Linked DNA regions of Homo sapiens: region 2 is linked to region 1. The links come from fine-mapping of genetic effects on gene expression. A gene starts in region 1. The other region holds a variant in brackets. All regions are shown on one strand. Distances are between the middles of the regions.

Region 1 (4,252 bases):
CCCACTGCCCTGCGGTTCAGAAACATTCAGTGCCAGACTCGCGGCTCAGCTCTGGGCACACAGAGCAGAGTCCGACCTTGGGCGCAGGAATCTAATGGTGTGCGTTGCAGAGGGGCGGGCTCACCAGGGCCCAGCAAGGGGGAGAGCTGGAAGCCTCATGGGGAGGGGACGCCTGGGCCAGGCTTGAAGAAGGGCAGGCCCCGGGGTGGGGGCTGTTGGGCCGCCTTGACCAAGCCCTTGTCTGCAAACAACCCCTGGGAAGTTGCAGGAACTGGCTCCTAAGCAACAGTGGGTTCAGGTGTCACCAGGGTCCAGAGCGGGGGGCCAGGCAGCGAACTCGGTGTTGCTGGGGACCCACTGTGCTTACCACGAAGGCCTGGCCAGTGATTGTGAAATGGGTGGGATGGATGAGTGAGTGGAGGCTGGAGCTTGGGCCGCCCATGGTGCTCTAAACGGGCCAGTGTTCGACTTCCTCATGGCCAGGGCATGTGGGTACAGGTTCAGGGCTGGGAGAGACTCCGCGGGTGGACGCTGGGGTCTTCACTGAGCCCTTTCCCACGACTGCTGTTGCCATGACAACATCGACACGCAAAGGCCGGGCCTTACCGCTTACAGTACACTTTCATTCTGCCCTAGGTTGAGCTGTAACTACCCTCCACCCCCATTCGTATGGTGAAGCCACTAGGACCTTAGGATGTGACCTTTGCTTTGGAAATAGGTGCCAGGTGCGGCGGCTCACGCCTGTCATCCCAGCCCTTTGGGAGGCTGAAGTGGGCGGATCACTTAAGGTCAGGAGTTCGAGACCAGCCTGGGCAACATGGTGAAACCCCGTCTCTACGAAAAGTACAAAAAATTAGCCGGGTGTGGTGGCGCATGCCTGTAATCCCAGCTACTCTGGAGGCTGAGGCAGGAGAATCTCTTGAACTCGGGAAGTGGAGGTTGCGGTGAGCCGAGATCGTACCACTGCACGCCCGTCTAGGTTACAAAGTGAGACTCTGTGTTGAAAAAAAATATATTAGCTTAGCTGGGTGTGTTGGTGGCGCCTGTAATCCCAGCTACTCGGGAGGCTGAGGCAGGAGAATTGCTTTAACCTGGGAGGTGGAGGTTGCAATGAGCCAGGATCGAGCCACTGTACTCCAGCCTGGGCAACAAGAGAGAGACTCCGTTTTAAAAAACAAAACAAAGAAATAGGGTTGCTGCTGATATAATTAGTTAAGATGAAGTTATTGGGACGGCCCCTAACCCAACATGACTGCTATCCTTATAAAAAGAGGAAATTTAGGTTGGGCATGGTGGCTCATGCCTATAATCCCGGCATTTAGGGAGGCTGAGGCAGGAGGATTGCCTGAGCCCAGGAGTTAAGGACCAGCCTGGGCAACATAGGGAGACTCCATCTCTACGAAAAATAGAAAAATTAGCCTGGTGTGGTGGTGTGTGCCTGTGGTCGCAGCTACTCAGGAGGCTGGGGTGAGAGGATCGCTGAGCCCAGGAGGTCGAGGCTGCAGTGAGTCGTGATCATGCCACTGCACTCTAGTCTGGGCAACAGAGCAATACCCTGTCTCAAATAAATAAATAAAAATAGTAAATTTGGACATGCGCAGGACACCATGGGAACGTAGGGGCCGAGACCAGGTGGTGCTTCTGCAAGCCAAGGAACCTCACAGGCTGGCGGCCCCCAGAAGCTGGGAGGCTGGGACTGTCCCCAGGGCCCCCACTCTGCCCACTGCTTGGACTCCAGACCCCAGGACTGAGAGCACATTCCTGTTGTTGAAGCTGCTCGGTGGTGTCACCTGGCTCCAGCAGCCGCAGGCAGCGAGTCCACAGGCTCTCCTGTCCCTCCTGTGCCGCCTTCCTCCCCGGATGGGCCCCGTGATGAGGTCTCTGTGCGATGGGGAAACCGAGGCCCCAGCAGACACCTGGGATGCAGAGACGCCGGCACCGCTATGTGTCCTCGGGCAATTCGCTGAACCTTTCTGGGCCTCGGTTTCTCACCAATTCCAAAAGCTGATTCTGCTACCGACTGCTGTGAGGGTCCCAGGGGACGGGAAAGCCCGGGCAGCGCCCACCGGGGCTCAGGAGCTTGCTGACTCCGAGGGGGTGGGGCCGGGCCTGGGCAAGGGGTGGGGCCGGGCCTGGGCAAGGGGCGGGGACGGGGCCTGCTCGACGTGCTCGGCGCTCCCGGGGTGCCTGCTCGGCGCTCCGCCGGCCGCCCTGCGTACGCTCGCAAGGCGCTCGCAGACTCCGGAGTCGCCAACATGTCGACCGCCATGAATTTCGGGACCAAGAGCTTCCAGCCGCGGCCCCCGGACAAGGGCAGCTTCCCGCTGGATCACTTAGGTGAGCGGCGGAAGGTCGGCGGGCAGGGGTCTGCGATGGGGGGTCTGGGTCGCGGCCCAGCGCGGAGCCCTATGGGGTGCCGGCATCTAGCGCGGTGCAGGCGGGGAAACTGAGGCACGGCGGCCCGCCCCTCCGCCCCACCCAGCCCTGGGTCACTGCTGCGGCATGGACCCTGCAGGTGGGAGCTGGCAGGACCGTGGCCCCCGTGACGAGGGCAGCGACACCGACTCCTTGCGTCAGGCTTCCGGGTCTCCGGCTCCGCCCTGACTCACCCGGCGGGCTGTCTGTGCCCCGGGTTTGCAGAGCGGGGCATTCGGCGGCCACGAAGCCCGCAGCTGCAGCCGAGGCTTAGACGGTGCCTAGCGATGTCTGCTGCAAAGCTCAAAAGTGCTGCTGATCTCCCAGTGCTTCTGGCCGTATTCCGGTGGGGTTGCCTCCGTGGACATGAAGGCTTCGAAAAAGGATCTGTGGGCCGGGCGCGGTGGCTCATGCCTGTGATCCCAGCCCTTTGGGAGGCCGAGGTGGGCGGATCATTTAAGATCAGGAGTTCGAGACCAGCCTGCCCAACATGGGGAAACCCCGTCTCTACTAAAAATACAAAAATTAGTTGGGTGTGATGTGGCTCGCCTGTAGTCCCAGCTACTCGGGAGGCTGAGGCAGGAGAATCGCTTGAACCGGGAGACGGAGGTTGCAGTGAGCCGAGATCGGGCCACTGCACTGCAGCTTGGGCGACAGAGTGAGACAACGTCTCAAAAAAAAAAAGAAAGAAAAGAAAAGAAAAACGATCTGTGAATTACTGTTTCTTTCCCAACATTTTATTGTGACATTTTCAAATAGCAAAAATGAAAGAATTTTTACCCTGAACTCTCCTGTGACCATCACCTACATTGCACCTTAACCTCGTACTGGGCTGACTTTACCTCGTTGTGGGTTTTTTCCATTGTTGTTTTCAGCATGTTTATGAAGGAAACAAGTTTGGGTTTGATTGTTTTTGTTTTGAGACACGGTCTCACTCTGTTGCTTAGGCTGGAGTGCAGTGGTGCAATCATAGCTCACTGAAGCCTCGGCCTCCTTCCTTTCTGGACTCAGGGGAGTCTCCCGTCTCATCCTCTAGAGTAGCTGGGACTATAGGTGTGCAGCGCCACACCCAGCTAATTTTTTTTTTTTTTTTTTTTTTAGAGATGGGGTTTCCCCATGTTGCCCAGGCTGGATTATTTATTTATTTATTTTTGAAATGGACTCTCACTGTGTCGCCCAGGCTGGAGTGCAGTGGTGTGATCTCGACTCACTGCAACCTCCTCCTCCCGGGTTCAAGCGATTCTCCTGTCTCAGCCTCTAGAGTAGCTGGGACTATAGGTGTGCAACACCACACCCAGCTAATTATTATTGTTTTTTTATTTTTTATTTTAAAGATGGAGTTTCCCCATGTTGACCAGGCTGGATCATTTATTTATTTATTTTTGAAATGGAGTCTCACTCTGTCACCCAGGCTGGAGTGCAGTGGTGTGATCTCGACTCGCTGCAACCTCCGCTTCCTGGGTTCAAGCAATTCTCCTGCCTCAGCCTCCCGAGTAGCTGGGACTACAGACACCCGCCACCATGCCCGGCTAATTTTTGTATTTTTAATAGAGATGGGGTTTCACCAAGTTGGCCGAGCTGGTCTTGAACTCCTGACCTCAGGTGATCCGCCCACCTCTGCCTCCCAAAGTGCTAGGATTACAGGCGTGAGCCACCGTGCCCAGCCTGGATTATTTTTAGGAGACAAGGTCTTGATCTGTTGCCCAGGCTGGAGTGCAGTGGTGTGATCAAGCTCACTGCAGCCTCGAAATCCTTTGCTCAAGCGATCTTCCTGCCTCAGCCTCCTGAGTAGCTGGAACCACAGACGTGCGCCACACCTAGCTAACTTTTAAGGTTT
Region 2 (4,501 bases), 49 kb after region 1:
TCGTGATCTGCCCACCTCTGCCTCCTGAAGTGCTGGGATGACAGGCGTGAGCCCCCGCGCCCGGCCGGCATTCCTCTTTATGGCCGAGGAACCCTCCATGGTGTGGCTCGATCACATTTAGTTTATCTGTGGTTCCGTTCACGGAGCTGGGGCTTGTTCCCGTTCTCAGCTGTCACGAAGAATGTGCTGTGAACACTCATGTGCATGTCTCTGCGTCTTCGCGTCTCTTACGGTGCAGAGGAATCGCTGGACTCTATGGTAACTCTGTGTTTACCGTTTTGAGGAACTGCCAGACTGTTAGTCACCAGAGCCGGAGGTTCCCACCAGCAGCGTGCGGGGGCTCTGATCACTCCACATTCTCTCCAGCTCACTCCCCTGTGCCACTTTGACCTTGCCATCCTAGTGGGGAGAGGTGGTAGCTCATTGAGGTTTTCATCTGCGTTCCCCTGACAGCTAACAGTGTTGAGTGCCTTTGCGTGGCCGAGTGGCCATTTGTGCATCTTCTTTGGAGAAATGTCCGATCAAATCCTTCCCCATTTTTAGGCCGAGGTGGGACGATGGCTTGAGCCCAGGAGTTTGAGACCAGCCCGGGCAACAGAGTGGAACCCCACCTCCATTAAAACAAATTAAAAGTATACATATGCATGTAAAAGTAATTTTAAAAACCCTTACCCATTTTTATTTATTTTTTATTTTTACCTTCCTTTTTTTGCAGAGATAGGGTCTTGCTCTTTTTCCCAAGCTGGAGTGCAGTGGTGTAACCATAGCTCATAGCCTTGACCTCTTGGGCTCAAGGGATCCTCCCGCCTCGGCCTCCCAAAGTGCTGGGATTACAGGTGTGAGCCGCTGTGTCCAGTGGAGACATGGTCTTGTTCTGCCGCCCAGGCTGGAGTTCAGTGGTGCGACCATAGCCCACTGCGACCTCAAACTCCCAGGTTGAGGCCATCTTCCCACCTCGGCCTCCCTAGTAGCTGGGACTACAGGTGTGCGCCATCACACCTGGCTAATTTTTTTTTTTTTTTTTTTGAGAGACAGGGTCTCACTATGTTGCCCAGGCTGGTCTTGAACTCCTGGGCTCAAGGGGTCCTCCCACCTCAGCTTCCCAAAGTGCTGGGACTACAGATGTGAGCCCCTGTCCCCGGCTGGCCCTTGTTAATTTTTTCAACTTTAGAACCATTTCTAGGTAAAAAAATATAATAAATTCTGTTGCTGTTTTTTGGCAATTATTATAAAAAACATGTAGACTCCCATAAGGAGACATTTTTCTACCTCCCTGTGTCTCGGGTCGAGGCTCTCGTCCTCGGGAGCACACGCCAGTTTTCCCTTGGAGACCTGGGACATTTCTCATCCAGCCACTCAGGTGATTTGTCCTGTTGCTGTTGGTGACAGGATCTCTCCTTGTATTTGAGTTTTCTATGGAAAAGCCATTGGTTTTCGAATTTTAAATTGGTGCCAGCCTCTTGTTGCTTGTGATTTCTCCAGCTGCTCTTCTGGGCCCTCCCTGTTTACTGCCATGTGATCCTCGGAGCAGGGTGATGTCAGGGGACTTCAGTCTGGCTGGGCCTGGCTGCGGCCTCAGGCGAGTGGTGTTCAGGAGCTTGAAGGTGCAAACAGCAGCTGCCTTGGGGGCTTACAGCATAGCAAGCAGAACCTCTCCCATGCCCTCGGGGCTGGCGTGGGGTGTGGCGGCCCCTCCTGCTGCTCAAGGCTCACCATACCTGGCTGGCGGCAGGGTCATTGCCAGCGTCCACCCTCAGGGCCTTTGCGCCTGCCAGGAGCACAGTGTGCGTGACAGCCTCCTGGAGCACGAGCCTCCTGGAACGACAGCCTCCTGCAGCACCTCCCCTCCTTCACGGCGCCGTTTCCTTCTCCCTCAGCCTGTTTCGTAAACATGTTCTGGGTCCCTGCAGTGTGTCCCTGCAGAGTCCCCTCAGAGACTCTGTCCTAGCCACATCTGGGTCTCTCGCTCACCAGCCCATCTCCAGGCCCCCGTGTCTGGCGCCTGTTGGCTCTTTGCTAAATGTGAGCTGGGGAGCTGGGTGAACGAGGAAGCCCTCGCTCTCTGGGGCAGAGATGGGGGTCACAGGATGCAGCCAGCTCTCTCCCACGGGACACCCGGTGTGGGTGGACTTGGGGGTTGAAACGGTGGGGCAAACCTCAGACCCATCCTCAAAAGGGGCCTGGCCCCTGGGCCCCCTTTGCCGGGACCCCGTCGTTAGGGACGCTGGCTCCTTCCCTGTCCCAGGGGAGGGTCGATCACTCAGAAATGGTGTCCCTGGGGCAGGAGGAGGTGGCGTTCC[C/T]GTCCTGGTGCTGGTGGAGCCCTCAGAGCCTTGGGTCTGCGGGTCACTGTGGTGACGGCCCCAAGGGCAGCTGGCACCTCCTAGGCTGCCCCTGGGACCCCAGGCCTCTGACCCGGCCCCTCCTCTCTTGCAGTTCATGGCCTCCCACGGGAACGACGCCGCGAGAGCCAGGTTTGAGTCCAAAGTACCCTCCTTCTACTACCGGCCCACGCCCTCCGACTGCCAGTGAGTACAAAGGGGCCTTGTCAGGGCCATGGTCAAGTGCTGGGTGGCTCCGAGATGGCCCCGGGAGGACCCGGCAGGGTGGGGAGTTGGGTGCCGCCCACAGGGTCGGGGAGAAGCCAGCCGCAGCTGCGTCCCCCAGACCCCGAGGTGCCGCCTGTGTCTGCTGGCCACCACCGGGCTTTGGTTCTGGGGCGGGGGGCGCTGGGGTGGGGCTGGGAAGGTCATTGTGCATCAGTAGCTACAGCCCACCCAGGTTCGCTGAGGCCTTGGGGGTCTCGGGTGGATCTGAGGGGCCCTCCCAGGTGCTCCTGGCGGTCTGGGAGGGGAACGGGAGGGGCGGCTGTTGTTTCGGGGCCTGCCCTGGCTCCTCAGGGCGGGAGCGGACGTGGGTACCGGTGGCCGGTTGGGGAAGCCTGAGACCCAGTCCTCTGAGCATCCTGGGATCGGGAGGTTGTGGAGAGAGGGAATGAGGCCTGCTCGGTATCACATCAGCCGCCTTCACCAACACCCGCCCCTCCAAGCCTCAGTCTCCCCATCTGCCCGGACGGTGGGAATGAGAGGTGACAACCACACAGGGCCCAGCCTGACTGTTCGCACCGACCCCCTCGTACCTGTCACAGGGGAAAGACGTGTTGGCCCACTGGGTGCCCTCCCGGCCCCCCATGCTTCCTGCCCTGGTTCAATCCCAGCCTCACTGGGCACCGCCCTCCGTTGACTCACTCCGTGAACCCACTCAGCAGAGGGCCCACCCCGCAGAGATACCCCGAGCACGAGCTGGGTGCAGGGTTTGGGTGTGAGCCAACAGTGCCGCAGGAAAGCGGCGGGCGCCTGGCCTCCCAGCCCATGAGGGGCCCACGTGCCGTTGCTGGCTCTGCCCTGACTCGGGGGCTGAGACAGCCTGGGCTCTGCCTGCCCAGGAGCTGCTGGTGGGGACTGCAGTGACCAGGGGGTCTTCCCCAGCATCCGGGGCCCTGTTTGGGGTCTGTGCCCCCTGCAGTGAGCTCCATGAAGGGGCAGTGGGATCAGGGGTCCTCACTGGATCCGAAGGCCCCTGGAAGGCGGGTGGGGGTTGGGGGATAGGGTGGAGGGGAGGCCGGAGGGAAGAGGGAGGAGGGAGAGGGGAGGAAGGACGGACTTCCCGGCTGCAACCCTACACACCATCCTGGGCCTTTTTTTTTTTTTTTTTTTTTTAAATATAGAGACGGGGTCTCCCTACATTGCCCAGGCTGGTTGCAAATTCCTGGGCTCAAGCGATCCTCCTGCCTCAGCCTCCCAAAGTGCTGGGATTGCAGCATGAACCGGCCCTCCCGGGGTCTTCGGGGAGCAGGGGCTGGAGGTGTGTTCAGGCCACGAGCGACTCAGTTTCTTTGGCTGCATGTTGATTTGTTATTGGGGTCACGAGGCCCCCGTCCAGGTGCTTGGCAGGCGTTTTCTTGATGAGCCTCCCGTGAGCCTGGAGACAGGTCCAGCTGCAATCCCCACATCGCCACTGAGAAGGCCGAGGCTGGCGACTCAGCCCCGTGCATGCACCTCTCCCTTCCCACCCGGGCAGGCCTGGCGCCCTGGCCCCCCGTACTCTCATTCTGAGGCCCCAGGTGCCAGCTGCTGTCTCCCCCTGAGCCCTCACAGGGGAACCCTGCCCTGGCCGTGCCCCGGGCTCTCGGTATGAATCATGGAGCCCCAGCACAGCTATTTTTAAGACATTATTTTATCACCCCGCCCCCAGCTGCTCTGTGGCCTGGGTCACTGTCTCCAAGTTCCTCCCACTCCCTGGCTGTTCTGAGTCGGGACCGGGGGCTGACATGGGTGCGGGGGGCTGGGGGTGCTCGTGGACTCAGGGGCTGCTGCTGTTGGGTCCTGGGTGAGGAGACTCCCAGGGCTGACACCCACTATCTGGGGTGGGGTGTGAATCCCTGTATGAGCCGTGGATGCTGGGGCATGGCAGGGGTGCAGTGTGGACCTGCAGTATAACTTGG

Evidence for each region. PIP is the estimated chance that this variant, and not a neighbour inherited with it, causes the effect. A credible set is the group of variants that fine-mapping cannot tell apart.
Region 2: its variant is the best candidate, but not a certain one, in a credible set for the expression of COX19 in lung (TOPMed, PIP 0.65).

The regions. Positions count from the first base shown.
Region 1 is chr7:973,513-977,764 of GRCh38, reverse strand. It overlaps COX19 (cytochrome c oxidase assembly factor COX19), which reads left to right and starts at 2,216. Exons shown (of 3, transcript NM_001031617.3): 1 at 2,216-2,337. The coding sequence starts at 2,256. RefSeq lists enhancers at 1,230-2,110, 2,742-2,811, 2,111-2,993 and silencers at 2,042-2,321, 2,342-2,501.
Region 2 is chr7:924,577-929,077 of GRCh38, reverse strand. It overlaps ADAP1 (ArfGAP with dual PH domains 1), which reads left to right. Exons shown (of 11, transcript NM_006869.4): 3 at 2,434-2,525. Among named protein-coding and RNA genes, the nearest start is that of ADAP1, 28 kb to the left of the region's middle. RefSeq lists enhancers at 112-201, 457-1,043, 4,220-4,329 and a silencer at 3,228-3,377. The variant C/T (reference allele first, on the strand shown) is at 2,301.